2 linked regions of the Homo sapiens genome follow. The protein of the gene in region 1 purifies or fractionates together with the protein of each later gene. This does not show direct contact. Each region holds a gene or a part of one and is shown on either strand. Other genes may lie near its edges.

Region 1 (3,830 bases):
AATATTTTTAATTACCCTAGGTTTATTTCATAGATGTAATTAAAAATCATTTTGGGACATTTCCCACTTTTGTTTGATAGTAAAAGTCACAAAAGTAAAGCAGACAGCCAAAGAACCTCACTCACTTTTCATCTTCCCTGTGTTTTCTATGACAGTGAAAGTCACAAAAGTGAAGCTGGCAGGCAAAGAGCCTAACTCACTTTACGGGAGAGTGCTACGGTACCTTTTTCTTTTAGTGAGGCTATAGCAGGTCTGATGTCAGTCACTTTAGAGACCTTTAGACCTCAGTGCTCATTTACTGCTAAAATGTACCAGCTCTGCTTCTGCATTATGAAGATCATCTGTCAACACTTTGAGATATTCTCCTTTGTTATTAAGCTTGTGATGCTCTACACTGTCAGGTTTTTTGCCAATTATAGTTAAGGTACAATAGTGTATTCACCAGATCAAAGTCTCACATTGGCGGTAGAGGAATGATTTGTAAGTCTTTATTCATTTGAATTGTACAATAGAACACCTGAGGAATGCAAATAATCCCTCTGAGAACTCTGCAGGAAAGGCTGTTAAAATGACAGGGTAGGACTATTGTTATTCTGAATTGATGTGTTAGCTAAAGTAATTATTTCTTATCTTGTTGTTTCATAACAGTTCTAGTTTTATTAGTTCTGTTGACCATATTTATGAAATAAAGTGTGTATGATATTTTTATATTCTCCTTTTACATGGGCTTGTTTTATTTCACTTTCATTGAATCTATTTGGTATGTGATCTGCTTTTTTAAAATTACATATTTGATTTTAACTTGTATAATGAAAGTAAGTTACTAAACCATTGATGATAACATTTGAATATAGACTTTTGTTTGAATAGTGTAAGTCTGTGAAGTAACTTAGAATACCATAATGTTAACGGAGACAGAAGCACCAATTTCAGTCCCCCCACCTTTTTTTTAACCTGTCCTTCTTAATTTTGGTTAAGAAAACATCTAGTTTGAATTTTATGTTAAAGGCAACATAAATCATAGGACTTGGTCCATTTTTTGGGATATGAACAAAAGAAAAAATACTATTATGAAGATTGAAAACCACAAATAACATACTAAATAAGTAGTTACCTTTGTATAACAAACATATACAAACTCTTGTGTGATTGTTTTTCATTCCTTTCTCCCATCCTAAATCCTGCTCAATGGGCCATAGTCTTAATTTTCTAATAACTCTGCTCCCCTGCCATTGATGGATTTGTGACTTAGTTCTTGTTTTTCTTTTCCCCTAAAGTGGCATTTACATTAATTATTTAAAGGACTTCTGCCACAGCATTTTGCCATAATAACTATTAAAACCTTTGTCTAAATATAGCAGTCTAGTGGAATTATGTAAGCCTATAGCATAATTTTATAAAAATTTTAATGGAATGTATAGTCTCACACTAAACTCAGTTCCAGATTCATAGGAATGTATGCTATGATTATCTGAGAAGGAAAATTAATAATAGTAACTGCTGTTAATTCTTTACTATTTGCAGGCTTTTCTAGGTTCCTTACAATATAATATGTACTATTATTATCTCTATTTTTACAAGTGAGGAAACTGAGGCTTAGAAACGTTCAGTAACCTGCCCAGTAATAAAAAGCTAGGAAAGTGTTAGGCTCTGAACCTAATTAATATATTCACTACACTTATTTCATTTATGTTCTAATTACTACTTTGCCAAATACTCCATGCTTTGGAAGGAAAAAAAATGACTCAATAATGTCTTTTCAGGTAACAACTAGGATCAGTTTCCTAACTGATTTGGCTTTCCAAATCCTTTGTGATTAAAGGAATTTCTTTCCTCTGCAGTTCTATTATTCTTGTTCTCACAAAAGTCAGGTTCATACAGCTGCGTACGTGATCAACCATATTTGTAAATCTGTATTTCTGCACGTGCTTGTTCTGGCTAGGAAAAAGCTTCCTCAAAACTAGTGACCACTGTGAGTTCTGTTAGTCCATGAAGGAACTAAACCAGGCATATAGATATCTGGCTGGAACAAATTATTTATTTGTGAAGGGCTCTTCAGAATTAGCTGGTATTTTTAGGTATGATTCCTGTACAAACAGAACTTTATGTCTTCTTTTAAAAATTTACTTTGTAAAGTAAGGAAAACAAAAAATTATAAAATGGAAGCTTTATTCAAGGGTACAGGTGTTAATGCTGAACAATTTTAGTGTAACTAAAAAAAGTTTTTAAATATTTGTATAATAGTTTCCATAGATAATGTGCTAAAGTAAAACTAGGTTACAGTAAAATACTATGGCGTATACCTGAAGCAGTTGCTGCCTGTTAATGCCTTGACCTTGGAAAGCTATATACAAAAAGATGGCATCATAAAACCGTGCAATTCTTATGAATATGTATGTGCTACTTGATAATAATGAATGTGGTACAGTCATGCATGCACTACAAGATAATGTTGTGCCCTTTTTTGTCTACAGGTTGATAAAAATTAAAGAGTGGGTGGACAAGTATGACCCAGGTGCTTTGGTCATTCCTTTTAGTGGGGCCTTGGAACTCAAGTTGCAAGAATTGAGTGCTGAGGAGAGACAGAAGTATCTGGAAGCGAACATGACACAAAGGTTAATTAGCATTCATTTTCCCTACACTTTATTATCAACTATTTCCTTGCAGTAATTTAATTGCTTGCGCTGATAGAATAATAAATGACAGAGTAATTACCATTATAAAGAGGGAATCTTCTCCTTTCTTTACCATGAGACAGAGTGAAAAGATTTATTTTAAATTAAGTTTTTAACTGTCATCTGTCATCTCCGTACAGTGTTTTAATTATAACATAGGTATTAGTTATGTATATTTTTGAGAAGGAATGATCGCCAAAACTCTTTCGTCATGTTCAGTGGGGGAGGGGAAAGGGTGAATCAGTTGCCATAATTTTTTCTGAGTAACAGTAATATATTGTTTAAATATCAGATTTCAATCAAATAATTTTGCTTTTATGGCCAGGTCCTGGAAATAATTAATTTTGGATGAAAATAGTCATAATTTTTCTTTTTTTAAATAGCAAACAATTCAAAATAATATCTTCAGGCTAATACAATTAAAACCAATTTTAGAAGAGAGGTTTTTAAAAACAGTTACTTGCTTTCTGAACCCTTCCAGTGTATTCTGAAAGATGAATGGTCATTTACTACTATCTTTAACATTTTCTGCTTGAAATGAATAATTTTAGCTCTATACCAATTTCTGGCACAATCAACTTATGTGTTGGGTGAATTTGTTTCATTTGATTTCAGTGCTTTGCCAAAGATCATTAAGGCTGGGTTTGCAGCACTCCAACTAGAATACTTTTTCACTGCAGGCCCAGATGAAGTGCGTGCATGGACCATCAGGGTAAGATTCATACTTATTCATCAGCTATATCCAGTTCCACACTATTGAATTCAGATTGATATCACTGACTTTGAAGTTTGTCATGGTGGCGGTTAGCTAGTCATTACAGATGAGGTTTTTGTCCAGGATAACTTTAATTATTTGTGAGCTGCTGAACAGTGAAAGTGGAGCGGCATTGATTGAGGCAGGTAACAATTGATTCTGCCTATTACATAGTCTGAATTTCTTCATCCTGTAGAATCTGTCTACCCTCCTCCTGTGGTCAGAGATAAGACGCACCAGTATTGTGCTTGCTTAATCTGTGTGACTGGGTTTGTCTGCAGTGAAATTGATGTTGCTTTTCATTTTGTATTCGCTAAGTTTGTTTGGGTTGCGGGTGGTTCTTTCCTCCTTTGCTTTGCTCGGATTACATTTTCAGCAATAAAAGCAATATGACATCATTA
Region 2 (3,830 bases), on another chromosome or scaffold:
GCCACCCATAGTGTGCAAACATGTTCTCTTCTGTCCCTGCACATACACCACAAAATAAATGGATGAGGTTGCATGTTATTAGACATATAAATGTTACTTTTCCAGTCTTTTATATCTTGCTTCAATTTGCTCCATGATCTGTTCATCCAGTAAATCTGTTTTGTTGGAAACTTCAGGAAGAAAGAAAGTAATAAAGACAGAGCCCCCTGATAAATCATGGACTTATTTTAGGTAGTGCAATAAGCTATTACCCCCTCCCCACCCTACCCTCCATCATTTATGTCGATCCCTCCTGATCGTAATTGCTCTTAAATTGGAGGTCTTGTTGCTTTAGACTACTTGGCAGGTACTTAGGCTGTACCATTGCAATAATTCTCTATCTGGACTCTTTTCATACAATTATTTCTGCTTCCGAGCCAGCCTATACATTGTACATTCTGGCCCGGGTAGTATTCCTGATGCACAAGTCTGTTTTACTCTCCTGCTAAATTTTCAGAATGAAGTCAAACTCTCTGTCTTGCTATCCAAGGCTGTCTGGTAGTTAATACTAAACAACTTTTCTAGTAGTTTGCAGAATCAAACAAGGGCTACTGGTTATGTAAGAAATATAACCAATGCTTTCATGCCTTCATGCCCTTGCTCAGGGTCTTTCCCATTGCCTAGGATGCTGATCTGTTAGTTTTTCCTTTTAAATCAAACTCAAATATTCTGTTCCATAAATTCTGTTCCCTCCTTCCCTCCTTCTATATTTACAGAAGAAGGAGGGAAGAGAATCTTCTGTATTACTCTGCAGTTGTATAACATTTAATATGTTTTTTGCCCTTGAGTACAGGAACCATCTTGTTCACTGGGTCTCTCGCTTTGCTGAGAGAACAGTTCTTAACTCCTAGTAGATGTTTATTTAATGTTTGTTTCATTTTAACAGTTCATAAGTTTATACAGGGGCACCTTGGGAGCCTAGGAGAGGACTGAGTATCAGTCAACGTGCCAGTACTCATTCCCTTAGTTTTATGTGGTTGAGTTAGATTAAAACAAGACATGAAGGGCAGCCTTGATGAAGAAAACAGTCTCATATGAACAGTTTACATAAGAATACACTGTGCAGAGGGGGATTGGGAACATTGCTTTGGTGATTGATGGAGTTTATTGTCTGTGAGACCTTTTTTTTAGCACTAACCTTATGCCAATTTTTAAATCGTTCTCCAGAAAGTGAAATATTTAGAGTAATAATTTAGAGTCTTAGATTAAGGTTTCTTAAAAATATGGTGCCCATTACTTAAATGTGAATTTGTCTTTCAGATTATGTGGCTTCTGTGATTTTAAATTTACTGTTTTTTTTTTTTTGATTAAGAATTATTTGGTGTTTTTTTTCTTGTAATTGGGTATTTCATAATAACTTCTCTTAATTTTAGGAAAGTGAAAAAACTCTTATGATGAACACATTATATAAGCTTCATGATCGATTGGCACAGCTTGCAGGTAATTGTTTTAACTTTTATAGTTGCTAAAAATGTTTTGAAAAATGTATGTAGCATGTTATTAGTAGAAAATATTTTTCCAAGTCCAGTGTTATATTTGTGAAATATTTTTCTTTAGAAGTTTTCATTACCTATACAGAGTGATTTTTGATTTTTACATATGTATTTAATGAAGGCTTTTTTCCTGCCTGCCATCTGTATTAGAGGTAATATATATATATAATATAGTTATAAAGTTGATCAAATTTCTTTATTGCATCAGTGGTAACAAAAAATCTGGAAAGCTTAAGTATCAGAGGAATTAGGTAAGCAGTGAATTAACTAAAATCTTGGATTAAATATACAAATGCAGATTTTCTTTTGTTGGTTGTATAGGTATCATTCTGTTTGATAAAGTAAATTTATTCTCCTGTAATTTTCTCTCCGGATTAATTGCATTTTCCTCATAGTCTGCTCTTAGTAATTCTTTGAGAGCTCTAAGGTAGTCAACTTGTCCGAAATGGGAATAATTTATTATAGATTAATTAGTATCAAGTTTAGCACATGTAAACTGCAGTAGCAGCTTATCTATTACCTTTTTTTAGTTCTTTTTTTTTTTTAAACATATAATCTGAAAGAAGAGACTTGGATTCTTGTAAGCAGGCATAAGAAAAGAAAAATGCAGTTTTCAAACTTTTCTATGTAGCAGAACTTTTGTGTAAACCAGATTATTGGTAGCAGCCTATAGGTAAATATGGAACTTCTCTGGTTGAATGGAGGTATTTAGGATCCTGACAGTTTCCCATCCTCTGATCTCTCTTTGTTTTGTACATTGGGTTCTTAATTCTGGTCAATTTTTTAAGCTTTTAATTCTGTATTATATCGCTAAAAGCCTTCTTTGCTTTGATTGTCATTCACACACTTCAAGCTAATGACATTTATTTGGTATGCTGTAGCACCCAGAGATAGGTTAAGTATATGCTAGTTATGCTAGCTAGGGATATTGCTAACACAAGCTTCTACAGCTATCTCTGTAGCATTGTTTTATCAAGTATGGTTCATGGCCAGCTAAATCAGCATAATCTGATGTGCTTTTAAAGATACAGATTCCTTCCCCTTGAGTAAGGGTCAACAAGCTTTTTTTCTGTGAAGGGTCAGATAGTGGATATTTTAGGCTTTGTAGGTTAGTTTGCCTCTGTCACAACCACTCAGTTATGTTATACCATGAAAGCAGCCATAAATACTACATAAGTGAATGAGCTTGGCTGTATTCCAGTAAAACTTCATTTATAAAAACCAGAGTAGGCCAGATTTGACCCATGGGCTGTAATTTGCAGACCTCTGCTCTAAATCTATGGGATCTAAATCTCTGAGGATGCACTAATAAACTTTCAAGACTTGTTCATCTGATAGGTACTTCTCCCCTTTTTATAGCTACTGACATTAAAATGATTACTTGAACAAAACTGAAATGAGAACATGGCTGCTTTTATTTTAGAAACATTTGGCAAGGATTTTACTTTAATTATTCTACTTTCATGTTAACAAGCTTTTTAACTACTTGAAAGACACAGGGAAGGGAAAACATGACAATTGGAGTTCAATATGAGGATAATTTATTTCTAATAACCACTTATAGTCTAAAGAAAAAGCCCTGAATTCGCTTCTTATCAACAATTAAAAGAAAAGATAAATGTAGTTTTCCAAAGATTTATATGAGCACATCCCTTTGTAGAAACCAGATCATAGGTGGAAACTTGTACCTGATTTCCCTGTTGGTCTGTTATAACAATTTTTGTTTTTTAAGATTTTTTTGAGACAGGATCTTTTCTGTCACTCAGGCTGGAGTGAAGTAGGGTGATCACAGCTCACTGCAGCTTCAAATTTATGGAGTCAAGCTGTCTTCTCGCCTCTGCTTCCCGAATAATTGGGACAACAGATGCATACTACCACACCTGGTTATGTTATAACAGTTTTTAAGGCATGCACACCCCTTGCTAAAGATAGGATTAGTTATACTCTGAAAATGCACATACTTTAATTCATTAATAAATTCAAACTTATTTGAACCCTTAAATGATTAGCTTTAAGAATAGATGTGTAAGTTAAGTTAGCACAATGAATATGCTGAATTTTTTCCCTTTTAGGAATAATACATATTTCTGGAGGGCGTCTTGTGTGCCAAGATCTGTGGATAGGCATCAGTGTGACATAGTTCCTATACCAGCTTACAGTTTAGTTGGGAATATAAGAGGAAGATAAGTTCTTGTTTGGACTGAAATGCATTTAAAAGTTGTGGTTAATGTAATGGTAGTTGTTTGTTTATATTCTTACTGGAATTTCTTTGTTTATATTCTTACTGGAATTTCTTCT

What was found.
Region 2: the proteins of OLA1 (region 1) and LEMD3 fractionate together in Homo sapiens (co-fractionation; one large-scale study listed by BioGRID). This does not show direct contact.

What each region holds. Positions count from the first base shown.
Region 1 is NC_000002.12:174,080,709-174,084,538, reverse strand, and holds part of OLA1 (obg-like ATPase 1), read left to right. Parts: intron 1-2,474; coding exon 2,475-2,615; intron 2,616-3,290; coding exon 3,291-3,387; intron 3,388-3,830. UniProt on the Homo sapiens protein: Hydrolyzes ATP, and can also hydrolyze GTP with lower efficiency. Has lower affinity for GTP.
Region 2 is NC_000012.12:65,214,565-65,218,394, forward strand, and holds part of LEMD3 (inner nuclear membrane protein Man1), read left to right. Parts: intron 1-1,412; coding exon 1,413-1,479; intron 1,480-3,830.